4 linked regions of the Homo sapiens genome follow. The protein of the gene in region 1 interacts with the protein of each later gene in a biochemical or structural test. Each region holds a gene or a part of one and is shown in the gene's direction. Other genes may lie near its edges. The genes, in order: IRF4, YTHDC2, SPI1 and STAT6.

Evidence for each region.
Region 2: the proteins of IRF4 (region 1) and YTHDC2 form a complex in vitro, tested with the Homo sapiens proteins (one study listed by BioGRID).
Region 3: the proteins of IRF4 (region 1) and SPI1 are reported together in a solved structure, tested with the Homo sapiens proteins (2 studies listed by BioGRID, with this or other methods).
Region 4: the proteins of IRF4 (region 1) and STAT6 form a complex in vitro, tested with the Homo sapiens proteins (2 studies listed by BioGRID).

What each region holds. Positions count from the first base shown.
Region 1 is NC_000006.12:401,750-408,772, forward strand, and holds part of IRF4 (interferon regulatory factor 4), read left to right. Parts: coding exon 1-28; intron 29-3,268; coding exon 3,269-3,381; intron 3,382-5,016; exon of another isoform or gene 5,017-5,150; intron 5,151-5,705; coding exon 5,706-5,849; 3' UTR 5,850-7,023. UniProt on the Homo sapiens protein: Transcriptional activator. Binds to the interferon-stimulated response element (ISRE) of the MHC class I promoter. Binds the immunoglobulin lambda light chain enhancer, together with PU.1.
Region 2 is NC_000005.10:113,509,098-113,516,709, forward strand, and holds the start of YTHDC2 (3'-5' RNA helicase YTHDC2), read left to right. Parts: upstream 1-4,596; 5' UTR 4,597-4,798; coding exon 4,799-4,985; intron 4,986-6,173; exon of another isoform or gene 6,174-6,174; coding exon 6,175-6,265; intron 6,266-7,612. UniProt on the Homo sapiens protein: 3'-5' RNA helicase that plays a key role in the male and female germline by promoting transition from mitotic to meiotic divisions in stem cells.
Region 3 is NC_000011.10:47,375,525-47,382,834, reverse strand, and holds the start of SPI1 (transcription factor PU.1), read left to right. Parts: upstream 1-4,287; 5' UTR 4,288-4,481; coding exon 4,482-4,526; intron 4,527-7,102; coding exon of another isoform or gene 7,103-7,105; coding exon 7,106-7,202; intron 7,203-7,310. UniProt on the Homo sapiens protein: Pioneer transcription factor, which controls hematopoietic cell fate by decompacting stem cell heterochromatin and allowing other transcription factors to enter otherwise inaccessible genomic sites.
Region 4 is NC_000012.12:57,108,360-57,115,466, reverse strand, and holds the start of STAT6 (signal transducer and activator of transcription 6), read left to right. Parts: upstream 1-4,104; 5' UTR 4,105-4,338; exon of another isoform or gene 4,339-4,745; intron 4,746-5,177; exon of another isoform or gene 5,178-5,526; intron 5,527-7,107. UniProt on the Homo sapiens protein: Carries out a dual function: signal transduction and activation of transcription. Involved in IL4/interleukin-4- and IL3/interleukin-3-mediated signaling.

The sequences.
Region 1 (7,023 bases):
CTCTTTGACACACAGCAGTTCTTGTCAGGTAAGGCACCTCGTTATCTGTTAGAATGGAGGTGGTGATGGCCTGCCTGCCACAGGGGTCAGAAACCACAGGGTCCCTCCCACCCCAGGCTGAGGTCTTCCTCCTGTTGACTTCGGCGCCCACTGGGCTTGGGGCTTGACTCCAGTAGAGATCTTCTGTCTGGCTCTGTTGTGGGCAGAGAGTCCGGATCAGATGGTCCAGGTGGACCATGGCTCAGGCTGTTCTCTTGCAATTCTGGTTTTCAGCAGTCGCCTCTTAAAACAGTTCCATTTCATTGCACTATGATCTCGACAAATACGTCTGCTGATGTGGCGGCTCTTTTCAGGTTCCCAGAAAAATCATAAAGGTTGGAAGCATATTGTTAACATTCTTGGTTGTCAGGTGTGTCACCCTCATGCAGATGCTGGCCCACGAGTGAGACGGAGGGTGGAGTGGACTGTACTGGTTTTGCACAGGAGAAGTTATAGGAGAGTGCTATAAGTTGGCTCTGTGATATGAACATTTCTAAGCATATTTTTCAGAACCAGTGAGTTTTGTTTTTCTACCTTGGATTTCATGACAATTCAGCGAACCTCTGGCTGGCTTCTGTGAAGCCCCTCGCCCTGTCATGCTGGGCTTCCTCACTGGCTTTGTGGGGCTGTCCAGGTGGAGGGAGCCTCCCGCGTGGGAGGGAGCTGCTCTACCCGCCACTCGCCACCCCACCGCCAACTCTTCCTCTGCCTTTTCCCAGTCCTGTCCCTTCCTGAGCCCCTTCAGAAACTCCTGTGTCTTTGATTTCTCATGTGCCTCCCCTTTTCTTGAATGTGCTTCTTCATTCAACTTATTTAAAATAAAAATATGACACGTCTGTGTGCTCTGGCACTGTTGACATGTGCTCGTACTTCTGGGTGTAAGTGACCCAAGTTTTTGTAAGCTCATCCAGATTTTCTTTTGGTGCCCAAAGCAAATATGTCCCCAGATAACTAAGCTTCAGGCCAGGTGTGGTGGCCCATGCCTGTAATCCCAGCACTTTAGGAGGCTGAGGTGGGCAGATCACTTGAGGCCAGGAGTTCAAGACCAGCCTGGCCAACATGGCAAAACCCCGTCTCTACTAAAGATACAAAAATTAGCTGGGCGTGATGGTGGGCGCCTGTAATCCCAGCTACTCAGGAGGATGAGGCACAAGAATCGCTTGAACCTGTGGGAGGCGGAGGTTGCAGTGAGCTGAGATCGCACCACGGTGCTGCAGTTTGCAGGACAGAGCGAGACTCCATTGCCCCCCGCACCACAAAAAAATAACTAAGCTCACACAGAGGCTGACCATAGGAAGAGGGAGAACTGTGCTGGTTCCCCGAGGCGGCGGCAAGTGAGGAAGTCACCTGGGGCTGGACACCTCTCATTCTAAGGGCAGAACCATCCCCAAGCCCTGGCCAGGGCGGTCCCATCCTTCTTGGGGTTGGGCATGGTGTTCATGGGGGACCAAGGAAATTGAAGGGCAACTGGGGGGACCCCCCCTCCCCTGTCAGCATCTCCTGTGTCTGCCTTGGGATCTGGAAGAGCTCACATGGGCCAGGAAGGCTAAGGCCCACTGGGCCTGGATTTCTGAAGACTCTGGACCTTGGTGCCAGTGGATTCAGAAGATACCACAAGGTGAGGGCTTTCTAATGAAAGTGTCACAAGGAACTGGCACTGGCTTTTCTGAGTGCCTCTTGCTGGGCGTTTTTAGGGAGGTAGAGCCCCCGTGGTGACTAAGCTGGAAGGTGCACATTGAGTCACAGGTGCACTGCGTGAGAGACAGCACAGGCAGGGGGTGGACGCCTGTGAGTGTCCTGGGGCTGTAGACTTGCGCGACTAGAACTTACTATTAATCTGTGAGCAAGAGCTGGTCTTGGCTTTCATTCCTTCCTCTGTAACCAAGGGCTGTGCTCTTTGCCCACTGCAGCCTCTCACCTCAAAGTGTTCACTGAGGTTCAAGGAGGATGCTGTGAACGTAAAAACTGCAGCTGTGCCAACCAGCTTCTGCATAATTAAGGATTCCCACCAAACACTCTCATGTTATCTAGGGTTGGAGCCATGCTTTCTCAGAGAATTGTGCCAACTCGCCATTCTGATTAGCCTGTGTAGGTGTAGTCTCAGATCACGGCAGTGTGAATGTATTTTACAGATTCTGACTAAGTCATTTGGGTTTGATTTGAATTCTGGAAAAAAAAAAAAGCAGGAAGTCAAATAGTCCTGTAAGTTAGCTAGAAACTTCTGTTCAGTTGAAGAGAACAGTGGAGATCTTTGATATCTTCCTATTCAGGTCTGCACAGCACTAGGGACAGCCCCCAGGGCCCGGCCCGAGGGTGTGTATCTGATAAGGACGCGTCTGTTCTGCAGAAGCTGTAGCGGCTCCTGTGTCAACTCGTTTCTTTTGCGGGCGTGACATTTTATTGTAGCTACAGGCAGAAGATTTGTCTTGTGTACAGGGGAGGGAGCATGGGCTAAAGTCAGGGGATGGGCACTTGTCTTTCCAACAATGTTCCAGTCCGTTTTGTATCTTTTGGGTAGGTGTGGTGGCTTCAGGATGTACATGTGTATATCCACAAGCGGGAGGCCAGGGGGGCTGCCCCACTCCTGTTCTCAAGTCAAGTTACTGTTCCATCCCTGGAGACAGGCAAGAAGTCTACTCAGAGTTACACAGTTCAGGCATAGTGACAGTGGGACTCAGCTGCCGATGGCTGGTGCTCAGTCACCACGTTGACGTTACATATTTTCTGTGGTGCCTGAGTTACGTGGATGTCCGCAGTAGCACAGATACTGGATTATGTGGGCTCTGTAGTGAGGGGATGAGGTTTTAAAATGATCCTGGGATGTCGAAACATTCTGATTTTTTAAATGAAAACTTGTCCATGGCATAAATTGGTCTTTTGCCATTGCGTGACTACGTTTCTTGTTCTTTATCTCCCGACTTCACTGTGGTCTACTACCTTTTGAATCTTCGTGGGTCCAATGCTGCAAAGCAGTGTTCTTTAGCTGTCGACTAGTTCCTCTTGAAGAATCGAGGGAGACCGAGGGCCCTGGGGGGAAAGCACCCAAAGGAATGCATACATGCTATTTTGTATCTGAGATGTTCACATCAAGAGCCCCACTCAGCGGAGTAAGAGTGCTCATTCCTCTTGCAGTGTTCAGAATCACAGTAAGCTCTTGCTTCCTGTTTAACCTGGTGTGTTCGGTGATGAGGGTTTCTGAACATGGTCTCTTTCTTGTGGGCTTCTACAGAGCTGCAAGCGTTTGCTCACCACGGCCGCTCCCTGCCAAGATTCCAGGTGACTCTATGCTTTGGAGAGGAGTTTCCAGACCCTCAGAGGCAAAGAAAGCTCATCACAGCTCACGTGAGTCCTCAGTTACACTCCTACCATAGTGGCTTCCTGTTCTTTGTAAAGGCCAGAGTTTCATTTAGAAAAGTCCCAAATGAAAAGTAAATGTCAAATGACCTGGAAAAATAAGCGTAACCCTTAAACTAGTGAGGGAGGAAGCATGGTCCAACGAGCAGCACAGTCTGAGGACTCACGTGCTCCTCCCAGACTTGAGATCTGCTCATCAAAGAACCAGGGAGGACAGCCTCAAAGGAGGGTGCCTCTTTCCCCATCTTTTTTATTTTTCAGGAAAGTTGTCGTATTTCCATTTTATAGGGATTGAAAAAGATTGATGGTTAAAGTTGCCCTTTAAAATTCTCCAGGTTAAGATTGCTGTAAGAATGCTATCTAGCTAGTGGATCTTCATTCAATGGAAAAGCTTTTCCCAAATGAGAAACTATCCATTCCCTGGAGGCATTTTGTAGGTCTCTGCAGCTGTGTCCTAGCACCTCTTTTATTTCTGGAATTTTAGAAATTATTTAATTATTGGGCATATGATATTTGAAAGAGGCTGAATCTTTCAAGGAATTCAAGCAAATCAGACCCTCTCGTAATGTTCTCTAGCATAGCTCAAGATGGGTTCAACTGTGGCAAGTAACACTAAAAGGGTAGGGTTAGGATTAGGGTTAGAGTTTTCTTTTTTATGAGAAAAGGTTTCCATAGATAACATGAAGCATTAATTTGCCATGGGAAACAGAATCTTGAACCCTTAAGACTTTTGAATTTGAAAACTTCACATTGCTACATACTTGCAAGCATTATTAACGGGCTTGCATGCTGAGCAATACCAGGTAAAAGTTACACCCCCTAACATCAAAGTTCTCATCATGTTCTAGCTCTGATGCTATTTCTCATTGAGAACTGAAATGAAACATGGTTTAATCTTGAACATACAACCCCCCTTCTTGATTTTAAAAACAAAGACCAGCCAACCAACCAGTATATAATCCCATAGACTCAGGAGTTTTCTCATGAGTTCTCTCCAGTGATTGACTTAATAATTGATATGATTGTTGAAATAATAACTGATACATTGTTAACAACAGGAATTGCTAAATGACTAAATAAACTTGGCATTGATAAGCAGCATTTAAGAAGTTGATGATCGGCCGGGCACAGTGGCTCACGCCTGTAATCCCGGCACTTTGGGAGGCTGAGGCGGGCAGATCATGTGGTCAGGAGTTCGAGACCAGCCTGACCAACATGGTGAAACCCCCTCTCTACTAAAAATACAAAAATTAGCCGGGCGTGGTGGTGCGCACCTGTAATCCCAGCTACTCGGGAGGCTGAAGCAAGGGAGTCACTTGAACCCAGGAGTCAGAGCTTGCAGTGAGCCGAGATTGCACCACTGCACTCCAGCCTGGGTGACAGAGTGAGACTCTGTCTCAAAAAAAAAACAAAAAAAGAAGTTGATGATCAGCTCAGCTATCACATCAATCCAGTTTTAAAGTTGACATGGATGCAAGTCACTGTCCTCTAAGTCAGGGAAAGATGGATCCCCAGATGACCCCCTCATGCTGAAGACGAGGCTGCGTGGTCCATAAAATGAATAAACACACGTGTACACCTATGAGTTCCACTTTTAAAAATTATTAATTTAATTCATTTCAGGTACTTAGGAGTTTAGCTTAAGTCGTCATATATAAAATACAGTCTCTAATATCATGATTGATGGAGAGCATTCAGCTTGCCTTAGATGCTGTAAATTCAGGAAAAGCTGAACATTAAGGCGTTTTTGTTTTTTGGTGAGTGTGATCCACGCTAATAACCAGACAGTATAAATTTGAGGCCAGTTAGCTTCTCTTTTTCCACAATAGTAGTTTTGTTGTTGTTTAACTTTACTTTTTATTTCTTTTACCTCTGGTTGAGAACTATACAGATTACCTAGAAATCAAATCATTCAGGATGAGCTCCTTGTTTCTTTCAAACTGCAGTTGTGGAAAAACAAAATCATTGGCCTAAATTACCCTGCAGATTCCCTCAGACTTCCTTTTAATTTGATCACTTTACTTGATTTGATGCAGTTTTAGTTAAATGTACATTTTAAGTGGCAGTCGATTTGAAAGTAACATCTTTAACCCAGAATTAAGTCACTTTGGCTGTTTTTTTACATGTTGATCTATGGAAGGACTAACCAAAAAATTGCTTCTTTAGATGGCTCCAAATATGAAATGTTTTGATGTGTTCTAGGATGTAACTTTGGGCTTTACGTTACTGTCTCCTTAGAATCTGAGTGCTGTTTAATAGTGAGCCAGTTGCAGGATATCTCAGTAATGTCTTTTTAAAATCTCTTATTAAAGGTAGAACCTCTGCTAGCCAGACAACTATATTATTTTGCTCAACAAAACAGTGGACATTTCCTGAGGGGCTACGATTTACCAGAACACATCAGCAATCCAGAAGATTACCACAGATCTATCCGCCATTCCTCTATTCAAGAATGAAAAATGTCAAGATGAGTGGTTTTCTTTTTCCTTTTTTTTTTTTTTTTTTTGATACGGGGATACGGGGTCTTGCTCTGTCTCCCAGGCTGGAGTGCAGTGACACAATCTCAGCTCACTGTGACCTCCGCCTCCTGGGTTCAAGAGACTCTCCTGCCTCAGCCTCCCTGGTAGCTGGGATTACAGGTGTGAGCCACTGCACCCACCCAAGACAAGTGATTTTCATTGTAAATATTTGACTTTAGTGAAAGCGTCCAATTGACTGCCCTCTTACTGTTTTGAGGAATTCAGAAGTGGAGATTTCAGTTCAGCGGTTGAGGAGAATTGCGGCGAGACAAGCATGGAAAATCAGTGACATCTGATTGGCAGATGAGCTTATTTCAAAAGGAAGGGTGGCTTTGCATTTCTTGTGTTCTGTAGACTGCCATCATTGATGATCACTGTGAAAATTGACCAAGTGATGTGTTTACATTTACTGAAATGCGCTCTTTAATTTGTTGTAGATTAGGTCTTGCTGGAAGACAGAGAAAACTTGCCTTTCAGTATTGACACTGACTAGAGTGATGACTGCTTGTAGGTATGTCTGTGCCATTTCTCAGGGAAGTAAGATGTAAATTGAAGAAGCCTCACACGTAAAAGAAATGTATTAATGTATGTAGGAGCTGCAGTTCTTGTGGAAGACACTTGCTGAGTGAAGGAAATGAATCTTTGACTGAAGCCGTGCCTGTAGCCTTGGGGAGGCCCATCCCCCACCTGCCAGCGGTTTCCTGGTGTGGGTCCCTCTGCCCCGCCCTCCTTCCCATTGGCTTTCTCTCCTTGGCCTTTCCTGGAAGCCAGTTAGTAAACTTCCTATTTTCTTGAGTCAAAAAACATGAGCGCTACTCTTGGATGGGACATTTTTGTCTGTCCTACAATCTAGTAATGTCTAAGTAATGGTTAAGTTTTCTTGTTTCTGCATCTTTTTGACCCTCATTCTTTAGAGATGCTAAAATTCTTCGCATAAAGAAGAAGAAATTAAGGAACATAAATCTTAATACTTGAACTGTTGCCCTTCTGTCCAAGTACTTAACTATCTGTTCCCTTCCTCTGTGCCACGCTCCTCTGTTTGTTTGGCTGTCCAGCGATCAGCCATGGCGACACTAAAGGAGGAGGAGCCGGGGACTCCCAGGCTGGAGAG
Region 2 (7,612 bases), on another chromosome or scaffold:
TTTGGATGATCCAATCAAACCAGGTAGTTGCATGTCCTGAAAGAACACTTCTTTCTTAACCTATCCCAAATGCGTAAGTAGGTTTACTAACTTGATACAGTTTGGGGCTAGAAAGACTCTTAACGATTTTTTTAAAAAATTGTCAACATTTTCAAACATACCCCAAAGTAAAAAGAATAGTATAAAGAAGACCAGTATAACCATCACAACAATTCAGTGATTACCACAATTTTGCTTGTGAATATTTTGAAGAAAAATATCAGTAAGAAATAAAGTACTATATTTACGAAATACTAAGTGTGCCCTGGGGAAAATAAAATCCTTATTTTGTGGGATATGAATACACTGTCAAGCAACGGAAAAATGTATTCAATTCCTCTTTAGCTATCTGCATGGGTAAATTTTGCCTATGGTTTAAAAACTGAATCCTTTCATAAAACAGAAACATTAAATATTTAGCAATAATCTTTTTGTTTTCAGTGGGTTTTTGATGTTCTCTTCAGAGGGTCCCAGGAGACAACTCCATGAATAGACTCTCCCTCTTCGTCTCTGAGTTCTTCTTAAAAGTCTCCTGAAGGAGAAACTTAGGGGTCTTCATTCTCCCAGTTCTGCAGCGTCCTCTCATAAATTCTCACCTGATTCTTTTTACTACTACAGTTAAATTCTTTAAAGTGTCATCATTTCTACTCTTGATTTTTAAAATCCTACTCTTGATGCATCCCAAGGGCATGGTTTCCTTAAAATTCCATAAGGACATATGCCAACGGACAAATTTATATCCCTCCTGTCTTCAAAACCATGCAATGGTTCCACTTCCCAGTAGGTAAATTTCCTCTGCTATCTGACCATAGACTAGATCCACATTGATCATTTAGTGTCACTGCTTTCTTCTTTGGTCCCTTCAACCTGCCTTTCCATGTTCTCAATGAGGGGCTTTCGAGATTGTGACATGCTACTTTCTCTTATATACTACTCCTTTGCTTAGAAAATTCTTTCCCGTGGGCTGGGCGTGGTGGTTCATGCCTGTAATACCAGCACTTTGGGAGGCCGAGGCTGGTGGATCACAAGGTCAGGAGATCGAGACCATCCTGGCTAACACAGTGAAACCCTGTCTTTACTAAAAATACAAAAAAATTAGCTGGATGTGGTGGCAGGCACCTGTAGTCCTTGTTGCTTGGGAGGCTGAGGCAGGAGAATGGCATGAACCCAGGAGATGGAGCTTGCAGTGAGCTGTGATGGCACCACTGCACTCCAGCCTGGGCAACAGAGCAAGACTCTGTTTCAAAAAAAAAAAAAAGTTCTTCCCTGTGAGCTTTTCCAAACCTTTTCTTCCTATTTTCCTAAGCAATCCTTTAAATTGCATCTCCTTTATAAATCAAATAAGCAAGACGTCCTGGAAGAGATGGTTTTCCTCCTCTTCTCAGTCATCCCCAACATAAGATAGCAATTGCTCAGTGAGTTACACAATGTATTTGCTGACCTACTGTGTTCACATTTTTGGACTGAGCTTTTAGTGTTTGGGAGATGGTTTAAGGATGTTCTAGACGTTTTTGAGGCACATTCTGTAAAAACAGTCATTTAAATTTTAAGCTCCAAGATCTAACAGACTATTTCTATTTACATTTTTTATTTATGGATGTTGAATAAATTAGTGTTTGATATTTTTTGTAGTGATTGGGATATCCTATCACATGAGAGTGGGTAAGAAGAGCAAGAATAAAAACTAGTTGATAGCCTGTTCCAGAGAGTCTTATTTTTATTATTTTAAAATATGAACATTGCCTCCTATTAACCTCATTGCTGCCATCTCCCTTATTAAAATGAAAATGTCCCTGGAAGGGATTACTACTGTTAATACAATACTTCATAGAAGCCGTTTATGAAAATCAATGACGGTCAAGACCTAGAACCATAAGCAAAAGATAGCTTTCTAGTGTCACCTTGTGGCTAACCATATTAATATACATTGAAGCTGATTAATGTGTAGACAGGTAGACACATATACAGGGTATAGAAAAATACCAATTTTTGGCATCTATATTATGATATGTATATAAAATGATAGCGCTGGAAGTAGTTTTACAATTACTTAAGTACAAATTTTATTCCATAGATTTAGATATGAAAGAACTTAGTTTCTCTGTAATTAACCTCAGTTAATTCAGGGGCTGCCACTCTTGCCTAGGCTTGCTTTTAAGTTCTGGGGGACTTACGGAGTATCAAGGCATCAGTAAGTGTGGGAAAGAGTTTCTGATCCTTGGTGGTCAAACAACATAAGTCACCGTTAAGTCATTCATTGCTTATTCTCAACTGTGCGATTCCTTCAGGTCTGGCATATCTCTGCCAATTCTGGACACCTCTTGGGCACCAGGAACCCTTTGCTGCTCTATACCACACTGCGCCTCACCTGCCTAGGCACACCACACTACCTTCTTTCCTGAGCTGCCTCTCTGGCCTTCCCTTGGGAAAGTAGCACAGGCCATTCTGTTCCAGGATCTCCCACACCATTCAGGGTTTTTGTTTTGTTCTCCCCAAGAGAAGCAGGGCTCAGGATCCTTTTTGGCAACTTACTGGTGTATTACTATGTGACTTTTTCCAGTTCCAGAGAACCGAAACCAACTTAAGACAATATTTCCCCAAATAATAACCCCTAAATGACCTGGCTGAACAAGAGAGAAAGGGATGGAGGGCTGGCAAAGTAGGGGTGATGAGGGGGCAAAGGGTGGGAGGAAATATCCCTAGCATCAATAATAAAATCATGTTGGTTATATTTTAAGACTTTATTACTCTACCAGGTCAATTTTATAGATGAGAAGAGAGCAGTCTCCAGACCACTGTGCTGTGGCATGCTCGTATGCCACAAGTTGTTTACAGGCATATCAAGATGTTGATGACCCCAGTTCTTAGGCAACTGGGTACAAACTGGAACGGGTGAAGCTAGTTCTTTCAGCCTAGTCACTTATGCCCAAGATCAGCCTTATCATTGTACAAATATATTAGTCAGAATAAGCTAACTCTTTGTATCAGTTATCTACTGCTGTGTAAGAAACCCAACCTAAAACTTAGTGGCTTACAGCAATATTCATTTTATTTGTTTATGTGTTCTGTGGGTCAACAGTTTGGACTATGTTTAGCTAGGTGGTTTTGCTAATCTTGCTTTGGGTTGCTTACAGAGTTGTGGTCATCCAGCAGCTTTTCTAAGACTAGACTTTCCATTATGGCCTTTTTCACGTCTTGCCCTTGGTGCTGGTGGATGATTGGGCCATAGTTGTCAGTGGGCTAGCCTAAGCTTCTTTACTTTGTGGAAGAAGAATTCTCAGCAGCAAAACAGGCTAAGCCTTAATGCACAAACACCTTTCAAGCCCCTGCTTATCTCGTATTTGCTGATGTCCCAATGGCCAAAGCAAGTTACATAGCCAAAGACAGAGTCCATGTGGGAAGGAAGAATACAAGGGTGTGAACAGAGGAATGTGTGATTCATCAAAGGCCATACCTTTGATGAATTCAACAATTTACCATAATGTTACAAAAAAAAATCTTCCCAAATCTCAGCAGTTTACCACAACTAAGAATTATTTCTTACCCATGTCATATTCCAATGTGGGTTGGTGAGGACACTCTATCACACTCGTTCAGGGAATCGGGAACCTGTTATCTATCTAGTGGTTCCACCGTTGTCTAAGAACTTCCAGAAGACCAGGAAAGACAGAGAAGGGAAGATTCAAGGAAGGTGTTATAGACCAATCCTGGAAGTGGTATACATCAGTTCCAGCAACATTCCAATGGCCGGAACTCAGCCATGTGGCCCCCAGCTAACTGCAGGAGAGTTGGGAAATATAATGCCTAGGAAGAAAAGATACTTCTTGTCACCAAATATTCCGCCCCCTTCTTACCACACACAGAATACACATATACCCTCCCCAGACACCTGGAATTCTATCTAGTCACTGCATCCAGGATCTGTTGTTGATACACAGTCCTCTTTATTAGATCCAGATGTATATCCTCATTGCCAGGTAACTCATGAACTATGTAAATATGTACTACATACCTGCCCCCACTCAGCTACCCTGTGTAGCGTGATAGAGCAAGGGTGGCATACTTGCATTAAAATCTCCCATTCAGAAAAGGGAAGAATGCAAGACACACAACAGTGGCTCATTCTTTAGTATATGTATTTTTTATGATATTTTTCCAAATATTGCATGGGAAATATATACACTAAAAATTATTCGTTTATCTGAAATGCAAATTATTAAGCATTCTGTATTTTTATTTGCTAAATCTGGCAACCCTCCTCCCACTAAAATATAAACTCCATGAAGGTAGGAACCTTGGCTCTCTGGTTCTCCAATGTACATCGAAGGCGTGGCATAATGCCAGGTCCACAGTAGAAGCCCATACATGCTTACTGCAGGAATTAATGAAGGACTAAACGAAGTAGCAAGTGAGTGAATAAGAAGATGAGGAGCGACCCTTGGTGGGCGGCGCGGGAAGAGAACCGCACCATAGCTCCGCAGACAGCCTCCTTTAGGCGCGCAGCGGCGGCCGCGCTGAGGTCACGGGCGCCGGCCCTGGTGACGTCATTACGCCCGCGCTCCTCGCCTGGCCGTGATATCAATGGCGCAGGCTTCACTTCTGCTGTGGCGGTGACTGAGGCCTTTCTGGTGACCTCAGCCCAACACAGGCCGTCTCCGGAGCTTCCCGGTAGTGGCCCCGGATTCCCACGGTCTTTGTCATTGGCTGTCAGCTAGCAGGCCTGGCCGCTCCCGTGCGGAGAGACCATCTCTTCAGGGCAATGTCCAGGCCGAGCAGCGTCTCCCCGCGGCAGCCGGCTCCTGGCGGTGGCGGAGGCGGCGGCCCCTCGCCTTGTGGCCCTGGGGGCGGCGGCCGGGCCAAGGGGCTGAAGGACATTCGCATTGATGAGGAGGTGAAGATCGCAGTCAATATCGCGCTGGAGCGCTTCCGATACGGGGACCAGAGAGGTGAGGTTCCGGACAGGGACCATGCTGGCAGTCAGGATACCCCCCTCACCCCAGCGCCCCCCAAACGGCGGCCCACCGAGTGATGGGGGTGCCTCCGAAGAGGGAGGGAAGACCCGGGCCACCGTCCGGGGCGGGCCTCAGCGGCGGCACCCGGGTCTGGAACGCGGCTGTTGGCCCTGCGGTGGAATGCGAGGTGCTCTGCGGATCAATGGGGTTATGGGCACTTTGCTCCCTAGCTGAAAGTGTTTTTCCCCCGCGTCTTTCAGCAGCCTTGGGCGGTTAAGCCACCGTGTTTCAGATATTGGTTAGCCCTAACCCTTTTTAAGGGGGTGTCACCTAATTGTGGCACGTTTAAGCTACAGATGTAGAAGAGCAGAAAGAAATCAAACATATAAATAAATGCACCAGCAATACGTTTGGACCCTGAAGCATCACGCTACCCACTTAAATTAAACTTGTTTGGCACACGAAGCATCTTCCACACCTCTTGAGGTTAGATAGCCACTTGTCTTGGGTCATATAATGCAGAACCAGCAACTGACCTGCGGTGACCTGTGCAGTCTGTTGAGGGCTCATTCGGACCTGCTGGCTTAGTTAGGGGACCTCTTACTCTGGAATCTTATAGTCCAAAACGGGGAATGTTCTAGACAGAGAGATTCTAAATTCACATTAAAAAAAGAGAAAGCCTCAGCAATATATAACAAATCCCTCTGAAATAGTGAAATACGAATTCTGTACAGTTTTGAAAGCAAAGACAATGGAGTTTCATGTTGAGAATTCATAATATTTGAACATATCTCATCATTGAAGAAAATAAACATTTTGTTAACTAAACAAGTAGGGACCAAGTTAAATATGTTCAGTCATTATACCAACTCAAAATTCCAGAACAAGTAAGAGGAGTCGTTTTTGGTGAATATCAGAGGCCTTTATCACATTTAGGTTTAATACATAGCTGTCTTTTTATTAATATCAGAATTCTGATAGACATTCAGTAGTTATTGAATTAATAAAATATCTTAATTTTATTAATTTACATAAATAGAATATGAAATATAAAGTTAACCTCAAATAAAGTATAATAAATTTGATTGTCTATGTATGTTTTTCATATTTTGTATCTGTGTGTTTTACTTGAGAGAAAATTGCCTATCTACAAATTTTACTACTTTGTTTTTTTTCCGTGTAGAAATGGAATTTCCTTCTTCTTTGACCAGTACTGAAAGAGCCTTTATTCATCGACTCAGTCAGTCTCTTGGTTTGGTCTCTAAAAGTAAAGGGTAAGCTGGTAGCTTTTCTTATTTTTTTTAAAAAAGATTATTTGCCCAAAAAAGGGAGAAACGTTTCTGAGTACATTTAAGTACTTATTACTGTTTTAACTTCACATTCTTAATTGTATCATATGTAGATAAAAGATTCAGGTCTGTACCAAATTCAACTCTTTCCTCTTCCCTCTGTCTACCTCTTCCCCCCTTTTTTGTTTTGTTTTGTTTTTCCCTAGGAAAATGCTTTTTCTTCTACCCAGCTTAGGTTCCTTGGCTGGGACCCTGCAAATTAGACTGATAAAAGACATATTAACAAGAGAAAAACATAAGCTTATTAAGACATGCATCATGCATACATAGGGGAGAACTCGATAGTAACTCAAACATGGGGCTTATGTGGCATCTTAATAAAGAACAATGAATTTATTTAAAAAATGACAAGACAAAGGAAAAGGACTTTGAACTTGTAGGTGCAGTAAATTGTGGGAAGGTATATGTGGGGAAACTAATGGAAGATATGTGTTCTTTTAGCAAGGTTGGTTATGTAGGTTCCCCTGGTGCTGTCTCTATTAAGAGTCTAGAGTGGTTTCTCTTGTTAAGAATAGTCCTTCCCTTTCTGGTAAAGCAGGGGAAGGCGGAGTTTTTCTTATGTCTGCTTCTTCTCGATTGCCTTCAGCTCAAAATAATCCTTATGGCAGAGTGACATATTTTTGGGTGGCATACCGTGAACTCTTTCAAAGGTAAATTTTAAGATGTAAGAAAAAAATAGTTTAAAAGTTGAAGTTGATTGCTTGAGAAAAATATTTTTATTTTTTGATAGAAATCTCATTTGAAAAATGGATGTACAAAAGATAGTTGCAATTATTTATGGAACTTACTTCTTTTACTGTTACTGCAATATAATAATAAGCTTTAGAGCATATGTTCATTGTTTTCTTTCCTACCAAGTCAAGGATCTGATGATTAGAAATGATTTTAAAAAGTGGTACAGGAGGAAATTGTTTTGTTTTGTTGGGAGGATCACAGAGTTACATTGAGGGAAAAGTCATTTGAGCCATCCAAATTGAAAAACTCTAAAATTCTGTGGCGCTATTTCATTTTGTTAATAAGGATGGTGGGATCAATGTAAAGGAAGCTTTCTCACTGTTGGTGCTATTGACATTTTGGACTGGATAATTCTTTATTCTGTTTTGTGTACTGTAGGGTGTTTAACAGCATCCATAGCCATTACTACTACATGCCACTAACACTCCTAACCCCAGTTGTGACAACCAGAGATGCTTCTAGAGGTTGCCAAATGTCCTCTGGAGAGCAAAATTGCTCAGGTTGAGAACTACTGACATAGAGGGAAGAAAAGGATAA
Region 3 (7,310 bases), on another chromosome or scaffold:
GGGAACACACAGTCTACTGTGTTTCTTGGCTGCACCCACGGAGGACAGCCCCCATACTCCTTGCTTACAACCAGCAAAGACTCCACAGCCATCCCTGCACACGACTCAGGCTCCTTGGCTTGGCACTCAAGGCTCTTTGCTTTCCTGTCCTGCTTTGCTTCCAGCTGCAAAGATGGTGGCTTCCTGTTTTCCTCTTCGTTTCCTTTGCTTAAGTTGATTCTCAGCCAGACATGCTTTCCCCCTGCACGCTTCCCTAAGCCATCCTATCTGGGACCCTGACCCAATCAATGGTTCCCTAATGCACCTTTGAGACCAAGTGTACCTGGCACCTCCTCTCTTGCCCCACTATCTGCTCACATGACCCTCTGCAGGCCTGTAAGCTGCTGGAGGCTCCGAGTATGCCTCATTCATGTCTATCCCCCTTACTAGGCCCAGACCATGGAAGACACTCAATAAAAAGTAAGTGATTAAATGACAACCTCTACGGAAAAGAGTATGGAGATTTCTCAAAGAACTAAAAACAGAACTACCTTTTGGCCAGATGCAGTGGCTCACACCTATAATCCCAACATTTGGGAAGGCTGAGGCAGGTGGATTGCTTGAGCCCAGGAGTTCAAGATCAGCCTGGGCAACATGGTGAAACCCTATCTCTACAAAAAATACAGAAAATTAGATGAGACTACAGGTGGCACACATCCATAGTACCAGCTACTCCAGAGGCTGAGGCGGGAGGATCGCTTGAGCCCAGGAGGTCCAGGCTACAGTGGGCCAAGATCACGCCATTGCACTCCAGCCTCAGTGATAAAGTGGCATTCTGTCTCAAAAGAAAAAGAACTGGCCAAGCATGGTGGCTCACGTCTGTAATCCCAGCACTTTGGGAGGCCGAGGCAGGTGGATCACATGAGATCAGGAGTTTGAGACTAGCCTGGCCAACAATGATGAAACCCCATCTCTACTAAAAATACAATAATTAGCTGGGCGTGGTGGCGGGCGCCTGTAATCCCAGCTACTCAGGAGGCTGAGGCAGGAGAATCATTTGAACCCGGGAGGCAAAGTGAGCCAAGATTGTGCCACTGCACTCCAGCCTGGGCAACAAGAGCGAAACTCAGTCTCAAAAGAAAAAGAAAAAGAGAGAAAAGAAGAAAGGAAAAGAAATATCATTTGATCCAGCAATCTCACTGAGTATCTAACCAAAGGAAAATAAATCACTATACCAAAAAGATACTGCATTTTTATGTTTATCACAGCACTATTCATAATAGCAAAGACACAGAATCAACCTAAGTGTCCATCAACGGATGAGTGAATAAATAAAATGTTATATTTTTATATATATATATATATATAATGAAATACTATTCAGCCATAAAAAAGAATGAAATTATGTCTTTGCAGCAACATGGATGGAATTGGAGGCCATTATCATAAGCGAAACAATGCAGAAACAGAAAGTCAAATACTGCCTGTTCTCATGTATAAGTAGGAGCTAAATAATGTGTACACATGGACATAGAATGTGGAATGACAGACACTGGAGACTTGCAAGGGTGGGAGAGTGGGGAGGCATGGTGAGGGATGAGAAATTACTTAAAGGGCACAATGTACACTATTCTGGTGATGGATAAACTGAAAGCCTAGACTTCTCCATTATGCAATATATCCATGGAACAAAACTGCATTTGTACCCCTTACATTTATACAAAAAAGTGATTAAATGAATGAATGAATAAATAAGCATATAAACAAACCAAAGCAAGACAATAACACACACGAGTGAATGAATGAACACATCAAGCAGGGCCTAGATCTTGTGGAGTGGATAACCTTACACCCCACTGCACCCAGTCAGCTGGGGCTTGGCCTTCTTGATGGGGAAGTGGGAACAAGGATGGAACTGATGCCAAGCCAACCTGTCCCTCCCCTCCTTTTTGGGAGAGGCCTTGGTCAGGTTCCTAGGGAGCCCTGAGGACCTGTGGCCTGGAGCCTTTGGAGAGTCCCAAGTGCAGATACAAAGTCAGTGAAGGTGGAAGTCAAGTAGATCTAATGGTGAGCCCAGAGCTGTGAAATTCTGGTGTTTGCTGCTAATGAAAAAACACTTGTGGCCTAGGAATCCACTGGCAAGAAGGCAGGCCTGTCTTAGTGGAGTGGGAATTTAAAGCAAGGGGTTAGATTATACAGGGGAGGACACTGAATGTTCAAAATTCCTTCCCAGCAGAGGGGACTCACCAGAGATCACTGGGCCAGAAAAACAACAACAACAACAACAACAACAAAACAAAAATGCCTCTACTCATCCCTCCACCCCCCAGAAAAGATCAGGAACTCTCTGAAGGCAGGGGTCTTGTATAATACTTTTTTGTTTTCCCAGCGCTCAGCTTAGAGCCTGGAACTCAACATTGGGAAGATGCATGGATGGACAGATAAGTGGATAGACAGATAGATGAATGAGTGGATGGATGGATAGATGGATGGGTAGATGAGTGGATTGGTGGATGGGTGGATTAGTGAATCGGTAGATGTGTGGATGAGTGGATGGATGGATGGATGAATGGATGGATGGATAGATAAGTGGATGAGTGGATTGGTGGATGGATGAATGGATGGATGGATAGATAAGTGGATGGGTGGATTTGTGGATGGCTGGATGAATGAGTGGATGGATGGATAGGTGGATGAGTGGATGGATGAATGGGTAGATAGCTGGATTGGTGGACAGGTGGATGAGTAAATGGGTAGATGGGTAGATGGGTGGATAGGTGGATGAATGGATGGATGGATGAATGGATGGCTGGATGGATGAGTGATACCAAAAAGATACTGCATTTGTATGTTTATCACAGCACTATTCATAATAGCAAAGATACAGAATCAACATAAGTGTCCATCAACGGGTGAGTGAATAAATAACATGTTATATTGTATTTATATATATATATAATGAAATACTATTCAGCCATAAAAAAGAATGAAATTATGTCTTTGCAGCAACATGGATGGAATTGGAGGACATTATCATATGCGAAACAACGCAGAAACAGAAAGTCAAATACTGCCTGTTCTCATGGGGCTCCTGGAAACCGAAGCTGATAGGTGAATGGATGGATAGGTGGATGAATAGATGGGTGGAATGGTAGGTGGGTGGATTGGTAGATGGGTGGATGAGTGGACTGGTGGATGGATGGATGAATGAATGAAGGGGTAGGTGGATGATGGATGGGTTGATGGACAGATGAGTGGATGGGTAGATGGGTGGATGAGTGGATGGGTGGATGGATGGACAGGTGGATGAATGGATGAGCAGATTCATAGATGGATAAACAGATGGAATTGTGGACTGATGGACTGATAGCAGGTGGACGGGCTGATTAATGGACATATAGATGGTTAGATAGACAAGTAGATAAACAGATGGGTGGGTGGATGAATTGACTGACAGATGAATGAACAAACAAACGGACAGTTGGATAAATGGACACATAAGTGAATGCATGGTGGGCTTGATGAATGGATAGCTGGATGGACAAATAGACAGACAAATAGATGCATGGGAAAACAGATGAATGGTGGATAGGCAAGAAAGGTTTGTAAACCAGGAGGGTTAGATTGATATTCAGGCATTGCCAAGGGATGGGGAAACTGAGAAACCTGGGCTGGAAACAGAGCCCTAGGGATTTGAATGTGGTAATCAAGAAGCTGGGAGGGGAGGGTATAAGAACCCAGGACCCTCTTCTGGTGGTAGGGAAGCCCATGTGAACAGATTCAGAGGGAAGGAAGAAAGCAGCACTATGCTGAAGACCCTACACCTGAGCCCAGCCTCAGCCTAGGGATAGCCTAGGCAGTGGGGGTGCAGGGCCACAGGAAGAGCCAGGCCTGATAGCCTGCTAGATCAGAGCCCTCACCCAGGAAGGCTGACTCCAGAAAGTGGAGGCCCCAAGAGGCCACCCCTTCCAGCTCTGACCCCAATGAGGTGACTGTTGGCTACATAGGGATCTCAAAAGAAGCAGGCATTTGTTGGGTTAGAGCAAAAGCCTCCCAGTGGTGTGGCAGAGCTACACGTTCTCCCTCCCATCCTCCCTCCCCAGCTTAGCCCCCAAAGTCATCCCTCTCAGTCCCAGCTTCCTCTGGGCAGGGGGCCTGGACCCCATGGCTTCCCAGGCCAGCCCTTTGAGCACCACCTGCCCCAGCCGGCCAGAGACTTCCTGTATGTAGCGCAAGAGATTTATGCAAACGGGTTGGGGCGGTGATGTCACCCCAAGGGGACTATCTCCCAGCGGCAGGCCCTTCGATAAAATCAGGAACTTGTGCTGGCCCTGCAATGTCAAGGGAGGGGGCTCACCCAGGGCTCCTGTAGCTCAGGGGGCAGGCCTGAGCCCTGCACCCGCCCCACGACCGTCCAGCCCCTGACGGGGCACCCCATCCTGAGGGGCTCTGCATTGGCCCCCACCGAGGCAGGGGATCTGACCGACTCGGAGCCCGGCTGGATGTTACAGGCGTGCAAAATGGAAGGGTTTCCCCTCGTCCCCCCTGTGAGTACCGGGACTCCTCCACCAGCCCAACCCGTGGCCCTCGGACGCCTGCCTGCCTGCCCACGAACCCGCCAGCCCACCCACTGCCCTCCTGGCTTGCTATCAGTGGGAAGTCAGGGTTTCCTCCCTGGAACTCCTGGCCTGAGACCCAGCGAGGGGGCCATTGGCTTCCTCGGAGCATGCCCTGGCGGGCTGAGGCCAGGCCCACGGTGGGGCTGTGATCGGTGGGGCCTGAACAGTTATTTATAGACAGGGCTCGGGTGGCAGGCGGAGGCCGGGGCTCCTGGGGAGGGTGCTGGGCTGAGGATGGTGAAGGCGGTGGTAGAGAGGTAGAGGAGGGAGATGGGGGGACTGGCTTGGGGGAGGCCGGTCCCCTGGATGGGAAGGGGTTGAAGGCAGGAGGCAATGGGCAGAAGTCTTGGCCCATGGCCTTGGGGCTCCTGGAAACCAAAGCTGATGGAACTCTGGGTCCCCAACGCCCAGTCTGGGGCCTGGCACAGAGGACATGATTGTTGACCAAAGGGTCAGGGCCATGGGCCCACAGGGGTACCCACAGGAGACAGGGACTGGTGCTGGAAAGGAGCCAGGAGTGGAGCTGAGACAGTGCAGTTAGGGCTGGCCCCAGGGCTGGAGTTCAGGGAGAGGCGCGGCAGGGGACAGGGCTGGGACAAGGCCAGGACTGAGATTGGGGCTGGGTGGGACCTGGGGTGAGCATGTGATAAGTGAGAATGGGGGCTGAGGCTGGGACAAGGACAGGGACTGGGTCTTGGGGGTGAAGAAGTGGGAGCCCCAGGGGACCCCGAGAAGAGAAGGGCAGATCGCCACTGCTCCTCACTCTCAGTGACAGTTGCAGCCTTAGGCAGGTGTCAGACCAGGGTCCCTCGGAAAGGACCCTTCTCCCTTTTCCCACCCCATGACCTCTCAGGAGTGAGGAGGCTTGAGGGGAGCCGGGAAGGGCTTGGCAGGCTGCCCACCTGAATCCACTTTCCTGGTCTAGAGGCAGCTCCCTTCCCCCACTATGCCCTGGCTCAGAGCCACCCCAGGAGGCTGGGAGGCACCCCAGGCCTGACATCACACCAACCCGACCAGAGCCGGGCTGACATCCTGCAGCGAGGCTGTACTACCTGGAAACCCAGAGGGGCAGGCTCAGTGCTGGGCTCCTGGCCTCCTCACTTGGCCAGCCACAGGCAGGACCAGGCAGGACCAGCCAGCCTGCTGTGGCATCCACACCGACACCCCTTCCCACCTGGGAACACGAAGTGGGCGGCCCAGGCAGAGGGTGACGGAGGTTGTCTCAGAAAGAGCCAATTCTGCCTCAAGAAAGCCACAGGCCCACTGTCTCTGATCCCTGACCTCTCAATTCTGAACTCCAGGTGGAGCTAGATGGGTGGCAGAGCTCCTTGGGCCATCCCTAGGCACCCCCAGCCCTCTCTGCAAGCTCCAGGGTCACTCTGAGTGTCTCCTGGTAGGGTGGGCTCCCAAGGCAGCCCCGGTCCCCCAAGCCCAGCCCTAAGGGCCACAGTGACTGTTATGCAATCCTGGGCCACACGCTGCGGGGGCGGGGAGGCCTGATGACTGTTGGGAAGGCTCCTGGGTGTGCACGGCCCTGTGTCTGTGCCAGTAGGGGGAGGAGGACAGGGAGGAGGGAGGAAGGTGGGAGGAAAGAAGGAGGACAGGGAAGAGGGGGAAGAAAAGGAGGACAGAGGGGAGTGAGGAGGGGGAGGAGGAAGCAAAGGAGACGGGGAGGGGGATGCAGTGAGGAGGGAAGGAGGAGGATAGGGAGGACTCAGGAGGGAGAGTGAGGGGATCAAGGCCCTCCATGCGCTCGGCCCCTAAGTCTGCCTGGGTGACCCCTGCACCAACCGTCAGTGTGGAGGGTCATTGTGGTGCCACTCTTGCCCAGGCTGTGTGAGAGGCATAGGCTGTGAGAGTGGGGCTGGGCAGGCAAGTGTGTGCTGTGCGGTTGAGTGTGCAGGTGGAATGTGAGTGGCTCTGGGGGTGTGAGTGTGTGTGTTGATGGCTGGAACGTGGTGTCATGTGAGTGTCAATCAAGGAGACTCTGCGTGTGTGCATGAGCTGAGTGTACAATGTCTCTGTGAGGTGGGTGACCTCTGAGTGGGTATGAAGATGTGTGTGTGAGGGATAGTGTGCAGGCGCCTGCATGGGGGTGGGTAGGGGCTGTGAGAGTGAGTCCTCGTGTGGGATTATGAGTGTGAGGGTGACACAGGGATCGTGTGGACATGTGCATCAGTGTGACCAGGAGAGGTGTGTGGGATGAGGATGGGGGCACACAGGCGTGAGTGTGAGTGTGAGCGTGAGGTGGCTATGGGGAGTAGCCCAGCAGAGGGGGACCCTGGTCCTCTTCTGACCTCTCACCCCCAAGGTCCCTGTCACCCCTTTTCAGGCCTTCTGGGTCCCCTGCCCCACTCTCTGTCCCAGTTCCAGGCAGAGGGAGGGCTGTAGGTCCAACGCAGCCACTGAGCCAGGGAAGGTGATGGGGACCCAGCGTGCGGGGGTGCTGCAGGCCTGGCTGGGGTCTCCCACCATGGTGCAGGCCCTGACACCTCCTCTCTCAGCAGCCATCAGAAGACCTGGTGCCCTATGACACGGATCTATACCAACGCCAAACGCACGAGTATTACCCCTATCTCAGCAGTGATGGGGAGAGCCATAGCGGTGAGTACGGGGCCTGCCACGCCCCCATCCCCCAGCCCAGCCTGGGCTCCTGGGGTCTGGAGAGAGAAAAAGAATAAATGATTCCCAGGACTTCTTTGGAATTCTGAG
Region 4 (7,107 bases), on another chromosome or scaffold:
CACAACCAGCACTAAAAAGTATGTTTTATCATGACTTAGAATTCAGATACATATAGGGCCGGGAGTGGTGGCTCATGGCTGTAATCCCAGCACTTTGGGAGGCTGAGGTGGGTGGATCACCTGAGGCCAAGAGTTTGAGAGCAGCCTGACCAATATGGTGTCTCTACTAAAAATACAAAAATTAGCTGGGTGTCATGGCATGTGCCTGTAGTCCCAGCTACTGGGGAAGCTGAGACAGGAGAATTGCTTGAACCCAGGAGGCAGAAGTTGCAGTGAGCCGAGATCCCGCCACTGTACTCCAGCCTGGGCGACAGAGGGAGACTCCATCTCAAATAAAAAAAAAAAAAAAAGAATTCAGATACATATATAAAGCTGAAACAAAAGTTTAATTAAACAATACTTATCCTTACTTCGCTTGATGCCTTCTGATATTTTCTGTACTGTTCTATTCTACTTCAGTTTTATTTTTTAATTTTATTCACTTTATTTTTTATTTTTTGAGATGGAGTCTCACTCTGTTGCCCAGGCTGGAGTGCAGGGGTGTAATCTCAGCTCACTGCAGCCTCTGCCTCCCGGATTCCAGTGATTTTCCTGCTTCAGCTTCCCAGGTAGCTGGGATTGCAGGCACATGCCACTGTGCCCAGATAATTTTTTGTATTTTTTAGTAGAGACGGGGCTTCACCATGTTGGCCAGGCTGGTCTTGAACTCCTAACCTCAGATGATCCGCACACCTCGGCCTCCCAAAGTGCTAGGATTACAGGCATGAGCCTCTGCGCCTGGCCTTTACTTCAGTTTCAAAGAGTGAAGGTCAAGACACTGTTTTTTTTTATGTTTTGTTTTTAATTTTGTTTTAAATTTTTTTTGTAGAGATGGGATCTTGCTATGTTGCCCAGGCTGGTCTCGAACTCCTGGCCTCCAGCAATCCTCCTGCCTCAGCCTCCCAGAGTATTGGGATTACAGGTGTGAGCCATTGTGCTTGATCAAGATGCTGTTATGGGCTGAGTTGTGTTCCTCAAAAATTCTCTTGAAGTCCTAATCTCAAGTACTTCAGGACGTGACCTTATTTTGAAGGACCCCCTTATAGGGTCTTTACAGAGGTAATTAAGTTAAAATGAGGCCATTAGGATGGGGCCTAATGCAATATGACTGGTATCCTTGAAAAAAGGGGAAACTTGGAGACTGACTTGCATACAAAGAGAACAGTGTGTGAACGTGAAAATGGCCAAGGAGGGAGGCCTGGAATAGAGCCTTCCTTCACATCCCTGAGAAGGAATCAATCAATCCTGCTCAGGTTAACCTTGATCTTGGACTTCTAGCCTCCAGCATCTTGAGAGATTTCTGTTGTTTAAGTCATGCAATATGTAGTACTTTGTTACAGCAGCCCTAGCAAACTGATACACTCACCAAATCGATTTTGTGACTCACTATTGGGTTGTAACCAGCAGTACATAGACATAAAGTTATTTTTTCCTTACGCTTTATCTTGTGCAATCGTGTGTGTGTGTGTGTGTGTGTGTGTGTGTGTGTGTGTGTGTGTGACGGAGTCTTGTTCTGTCACCAGGCTGGAGTGCAGTGGCTTGATCTCGGCTCACTATAATCTCTGCCTTCCAGATTCAAGTGATTTCCCTGCCTCAGCCTCCTGAGTAGCTGGGACTACAGGCGCGCACCACCACGCCCGACTAATTTTTTGTATTTTTAGTAGAGACGGGGTTTCACCATGTTGGCCAGGATGGTCTCAATCTCCTGACCTTGTGATCTGCCTGCCTCAGCCTCCCAAAGTGCTGGGATTACAGGCGTGAGCCTCTCTTGTGCAATCTTTACCACCACTCAATGGGATGTCAAGGTCCAGGGGAGGGTGATACAGTCACCCTCACAGTCATGCAGGTGCAGATGTCATTAATGAAGGTCTGACAGACCCTGCAATTGTACAATCTGAAGATGAGTATCTCCTTAAATTTCATACTCTAGGCACTTTACCCTAGCCTAGACTCTGTTGAAGTAGGTATAACTATTATTCTCATTTGAGGGATTGACACCTGATTGTGAACCTCCTAAATGGAGTCATACCCAAGCCAGATTTGCCTCTAAATTCTGTTTTTTCCCCTTACATCACAGTGTTCCCATTGGTATAGTCAGTTACAGAGGGAGTAATATATACTATTTTTCTACCAGTACTTGCTCCTCGCCTTCCTACCCCCTAAAAGGAGCCAAAGTCAGAGATCACATTTACTCTTTTCCCTCCTCCTCTCCAAGTCTTTGGGGACTTGTAGCTCTGACACCCTTAGATGGTGAAACCTGGCTTCACCTACTGTCTGTGGATGTCTGCAGGCAGAGTGGGCACTCGGGAGCACATACAAAGCACGTGTGCCGTGAACACGTATGTGCACACACCTTGATCCTAGCATGGCTTGTTGGACAAGCCAATGGACAGAGTCCCTGCCTGCCACCTCCACCCCTGCTCTCCCTTCTCTTCCATTCACTGTCCTGCAGACACAGCAAACACATACGCACATACACCCTCAATATCCTTTTGGCAGTAACATGACCCCCAAATCTGGGGACTTCTATGTAGGATGGAGACCCTTCTCCTTTCCTCATACCTGGTTTATTATGAACCATAAAAATAGTGCCTGACAGTTACTGTGTGTCAGGCATTGTTCTAAGCCTTCAGATGTTTTACTGCATTTTATTCTCACATTATGGGTTAAGACTTATTTGCTCCATTTTACAGATGACGAGAATGAATCACAGAGTAAATTGCTCAGGGTTGTGTGGTTAGCAGCATTAGCAGGATTTGAACCCAAGCAGCCTGTATCCACAGTCCAGTCTTTTAACTGCTATATTTTGCTGTGTTCAAACCCTCTGCTGCCTGGCTGGGTCCACACACGTGCACTCATGTACAGACCTGCGGGGTAGCAAGGGATGGAGGAGGAGGAGCTGGTTCTGGAAATCAATTCAGGCACCAGGGGGCAGCATAGGCCTAGCTTTGGCCCCTCAGCCCAGCCCCTGCTATGGGAGGGAGGAGGGGAGTAGAAACTTCCTCCCACCGCCCCTCAGACACCACCTCTTCCACACACCGGGGCTCTCAGGTGTCCGGGAGTAAAGGCCTCTCTGGATCCCTTGGTCTCCTCCAGCTCCTCCCCCAGCAAAAACTGCAGAACCCTCCACTAGTTATGTTGATGACTCAGAAGTTGAGCAAGACTGTGTGTGTGTGTGTGTGTGTGTGTGTGTGTGTGTGTGTGTGGTGTTGTGATTGCAATGGGCTCTGTTTGTGAGCCTGCCTGCACGTGTGTGTGTGTGTGTGTGTGTGTGTGTGTGTAGTCTTGTGGTCAGGGAAGTTGTGCATGTGTGTGTTTGTTTCTTGGCGTGTCTCAGTGTTTACCCCAGAAACATATAGGAACTTGGCAGATAGGAACACAGCAGATTCGTATTCAAACTTGCCCCTTGTGAATCTGCAGGCAGCAGCTCCGGCTTGTGCTGGTTCCCACCACAGTCTCAGGAGGGGTGCCCTGTGAGGAGAGAGCAAAGACCAGCTTCAGTCCAAGGGACTCCTAGAGTCTTCCAGAATTCTGAGCTGAGGGTTCCCCTCCCCCACTCCCTCCCGTCAGTGGTCACGAGACCGACCTCTAAGGCGTTCCCTGCCGGAAGGGAGGGGGACCTAGGAGTTGGCTGGCATCGAGCTCCCTGGCGGCTTTTTAGGGTCCTCCACTGGAGGGAGCGCAGAGTCCAGAGGGATTTACTTTTCCTGAGGCCCTGGGGAGCCCAGTCCCTTGTGGGTCCAAACCCCAGCCCTTGGCAGAGTTTGAGTTTGGGAGCCAGGCAGTTAGGGGTGGCAAATCTCTGTTTGATATTGGGTGACTTTCTGGAGAAAAGCTGATGCTTTTGAGGGGGACAGAGTAAGTGGGGGTCAGCCTCCCCCCAAGCCTGGCTCCAAGGCCTGGACCCCAGTCCTGATCCCCCACGTGTTCCCCCACTCGGCACAGGAGGCACACATATTCACCCCACTTTCTTCCTCTTCCTCCTCCAGCCCACTTTCTCTTCTCTGTGTCGTCAGAGCTCCAGGGAGGGACCTGGGTAGAAGGAGAAGCCGGAAACAGCGGGCTGGGGCAGCCACTGCTTACACTGAAGAGGGAGGACGGGAGAGGAGTGTGTGTGTGTGTGTGTGTGTGTGTGTGTATGTATGTGTGTGCTTTATCTTATTTTTCTTTTTGGTGGTGGTGGTGGAAGGGGGGAGGTGCTAGCAGGGCCAGCCTTGAACTCGCTGGACAGAGCTACAGACCTATGGGGCCTGGAAGTGCCCGCTGAGAAAGGGAGAAGACAGCAGAGGGGTTGCCGAGGTGAGGGGTTGCCTCCGAGGTGGGTGCGGGGGCCTCTATGAGTGCATGGGGGTGGATTCGTGGGGGGAGCTCTCGGGATCCTCCCCTGGCTGGGTGGATGGTCCCCAAGAGATGGTTTCAGCTAGTGTTGGTGGCTGGTGGCACTGGGTTTTAGCAGTTTCGAACTCCTGGAGGAATCTGGGAGGGTCCAGGCCTCAGTACTCCCCTCCCCCATGGGTCACGTTTTCACAGCCTCACCCCTGCACCCCCAGGGCCATGGAAAGTCAGGGAAAGGAGGTGAAGGAGTGCCCCTCTGCCCTGAGTCGGGGGAAGTGGCCGCCCCTCCCTGGAAGGTTGATGCCAGAGGGCAGTGGATCCTTGTTAAACCCCTATCCTGCCCTCCACTAAAGGTTCCTGTTCAAGGGTGTGGCTGGGGCGTGAGCAAGCCCCAGATGTAGACCTCATGGTGGCCCAGACGAGGGGGAATTTCCCCCTCAAAACTGCTCCACGCTTGGCTGCTGTAGACGCTGAGATTTCCCAGCGGCGGCGCCGAGTTAACCCTCCTCGTGCTGAACTGGCTCCACCTCCCCGCCTGCCCCCACCGCCACATTCACGCATTGGGCAACTCAGAGAAGCTGTTTTAACTTTCGATCCTGTGGTCCCACAATCAGAGGACTCGGGCAGATAGGGGTTGAGATAAGCGAGTTTAGGCCACCAAGCGGGCGGACGAGGATCCCAGACCTTGCGCTTCCCTTCTGAGTTTGGGAGGTAACACTGGCCCCGCCCCTCACGCCGTGGCTCCTCCCTCCCTTCCCCTTCAAGGGGCTGAAGACAAAAGGTGCCCCTGTCCTGGTCAAGCCAATCGACCCAGCCTTGTTATGGGTTGGGGTGGGGAGAAATGTGTCCTCCTGATGGCTGGGGAAGAAGAGGGGTTGGATATTTCTAGCCAGGGCCATGCCAGGAGGCTGGTCACTCTGCAAGGGGATGCAGAGGAAAGCGGTGCCCACTCACTCCAGAGGACCTTTCTCTCTTGGGCTAGAGAAAGGCCTATTGGAGGAACCTGAGCAGGAGGGGTAAGGATTCTGCCTTGAGGAGAAAAGAGCTGGGGTAAGTGGGCACTGGAGGAAAGAGGGGCATGAAGGTCTTGGAGCAGAAACGTCCAGAGAAGGGACCTCTCCATTTTCCATCCCTCTGAGAGGCCTGGGAGAGGTGAGAGGCTGAACGTGCAACAGGAGGACTTGGGGTTACTGGGTTTGGGGAGACCTGGGGAGTTGTCATCCCATCCTCTCCCTCATCTCTGGGAGAGGGATATTATGAGAAACGTGAACTGAGAGGCCCCTGGGAAACCACTGGTTACCCAGTCCTCCCTGAACCTGGAAATGGGGATGCAACCCCCTCTTCTACTTCCCTGTCCCCTCCTCTCCTTTCTACCTGTTTTCGTCTCTCATCTTTGCCTTCTAGCCCTCCAGCTTCCTCTCTCTTCTAGGCTCTTTCCTCCTAGCTTACTAAACCCGCCTTTTTTCCAGTCTCTTCCATCCTCTTCCTTAGTTCTCTCTACTTTCCTTTTCCACCTCTCCTCCTTCAAGTCTCCTCCCACCTTCCCCCACTTCTTAGGATGATCAGATTTGCCCCTGGAAGGGATCCTAACAACACAGTGCGATGGTTAATCCCCACTCAGATTCAAAGCCTGCTTTCCAAACTCACTTACTGAGTGGCCTTGGGCAGAGTAGAGAAACTCCTTAAGCCTCAGTTTCTTCATCTATAAAATGGGATATTATATATTTTAAAAAGTGTCGTGAGGCCTGAAGGAGATAATACACTGAGTGTAATGCCTCATACACAGTAAGTGCTTAACAAATAGTAGCTGTTATTACTCTCCCATCCTCTTCATCATCTAGCCTTGTGGTTTTCATTTTTATTTTATTTCATTTATTTATTTATTTATTTTGAGGCAGAGTCTCTCTCTGTCGCCCAGGCTGGAGTGCAGTGGCTCGATCTCTGCTCACTGCAAGCTCCGCCCCCCAGGTTCACGCCATTCTGTCACCTCAGCCTCCCCAGTAGCTGGGACTACAGGCGCTCGCCACCACGCCCTGCTAATTTTGTTTTTGTATTTTTAGTAGAGATGGGGTTTCACTGTGTTAGCCAGGATGGTCTTGATCTCCTGACCTCGTGATCTGCCCGCCTCGGCCTCCCAAAGCGCTGGGATTACAGGCATGAGCCACTGCGCCTGGCCGAGCCTTGTGGTTTTCAAATTATCTCATGGAGTCCTAGAATTTTGAGAGGTTTGTCTAGGGATGCCTTTGGCGTCAGGAGGTGGGGAGAGGGAAGTAGAAGCAGTCGAGTTTCAGGCTTTCCATGCTTGCTTTCAACAGGGCATCTTCGGTTTCGTACCTTTTATGTAATTGAGATTCCACAGATTAAAAGCTGACATTGCCTACCGCTTTAAAAAGTTTGGAAAGTTTTCCACTCATCTAACACTCATATTTTATAGATGAGAAGATCGAAGCCCACAAAGGGAAGGCTCTTTGCCCACAGAACCAGAGCCAGGTCTAGAGCTGCAACTAAATCCTCTGCCACTCTAAGAGAGCTCTCGCTCTACTGCCCTGTCTCCCTTTGCCTCCCCATCCCTCTGGCTACAGCTCAGCTCTTCCCACCCCTGTGTCTATCACTGAAGGAGTTACCCCCATCTCAGGCATTGACTCAGGATGCCCCTGGTTTAAGGTGGTCTGGCCATGAGTGGTGGTGGGGACGGTCCCTAGGAGGGCTATCTATGGGAGGTCCCTGGCTGCC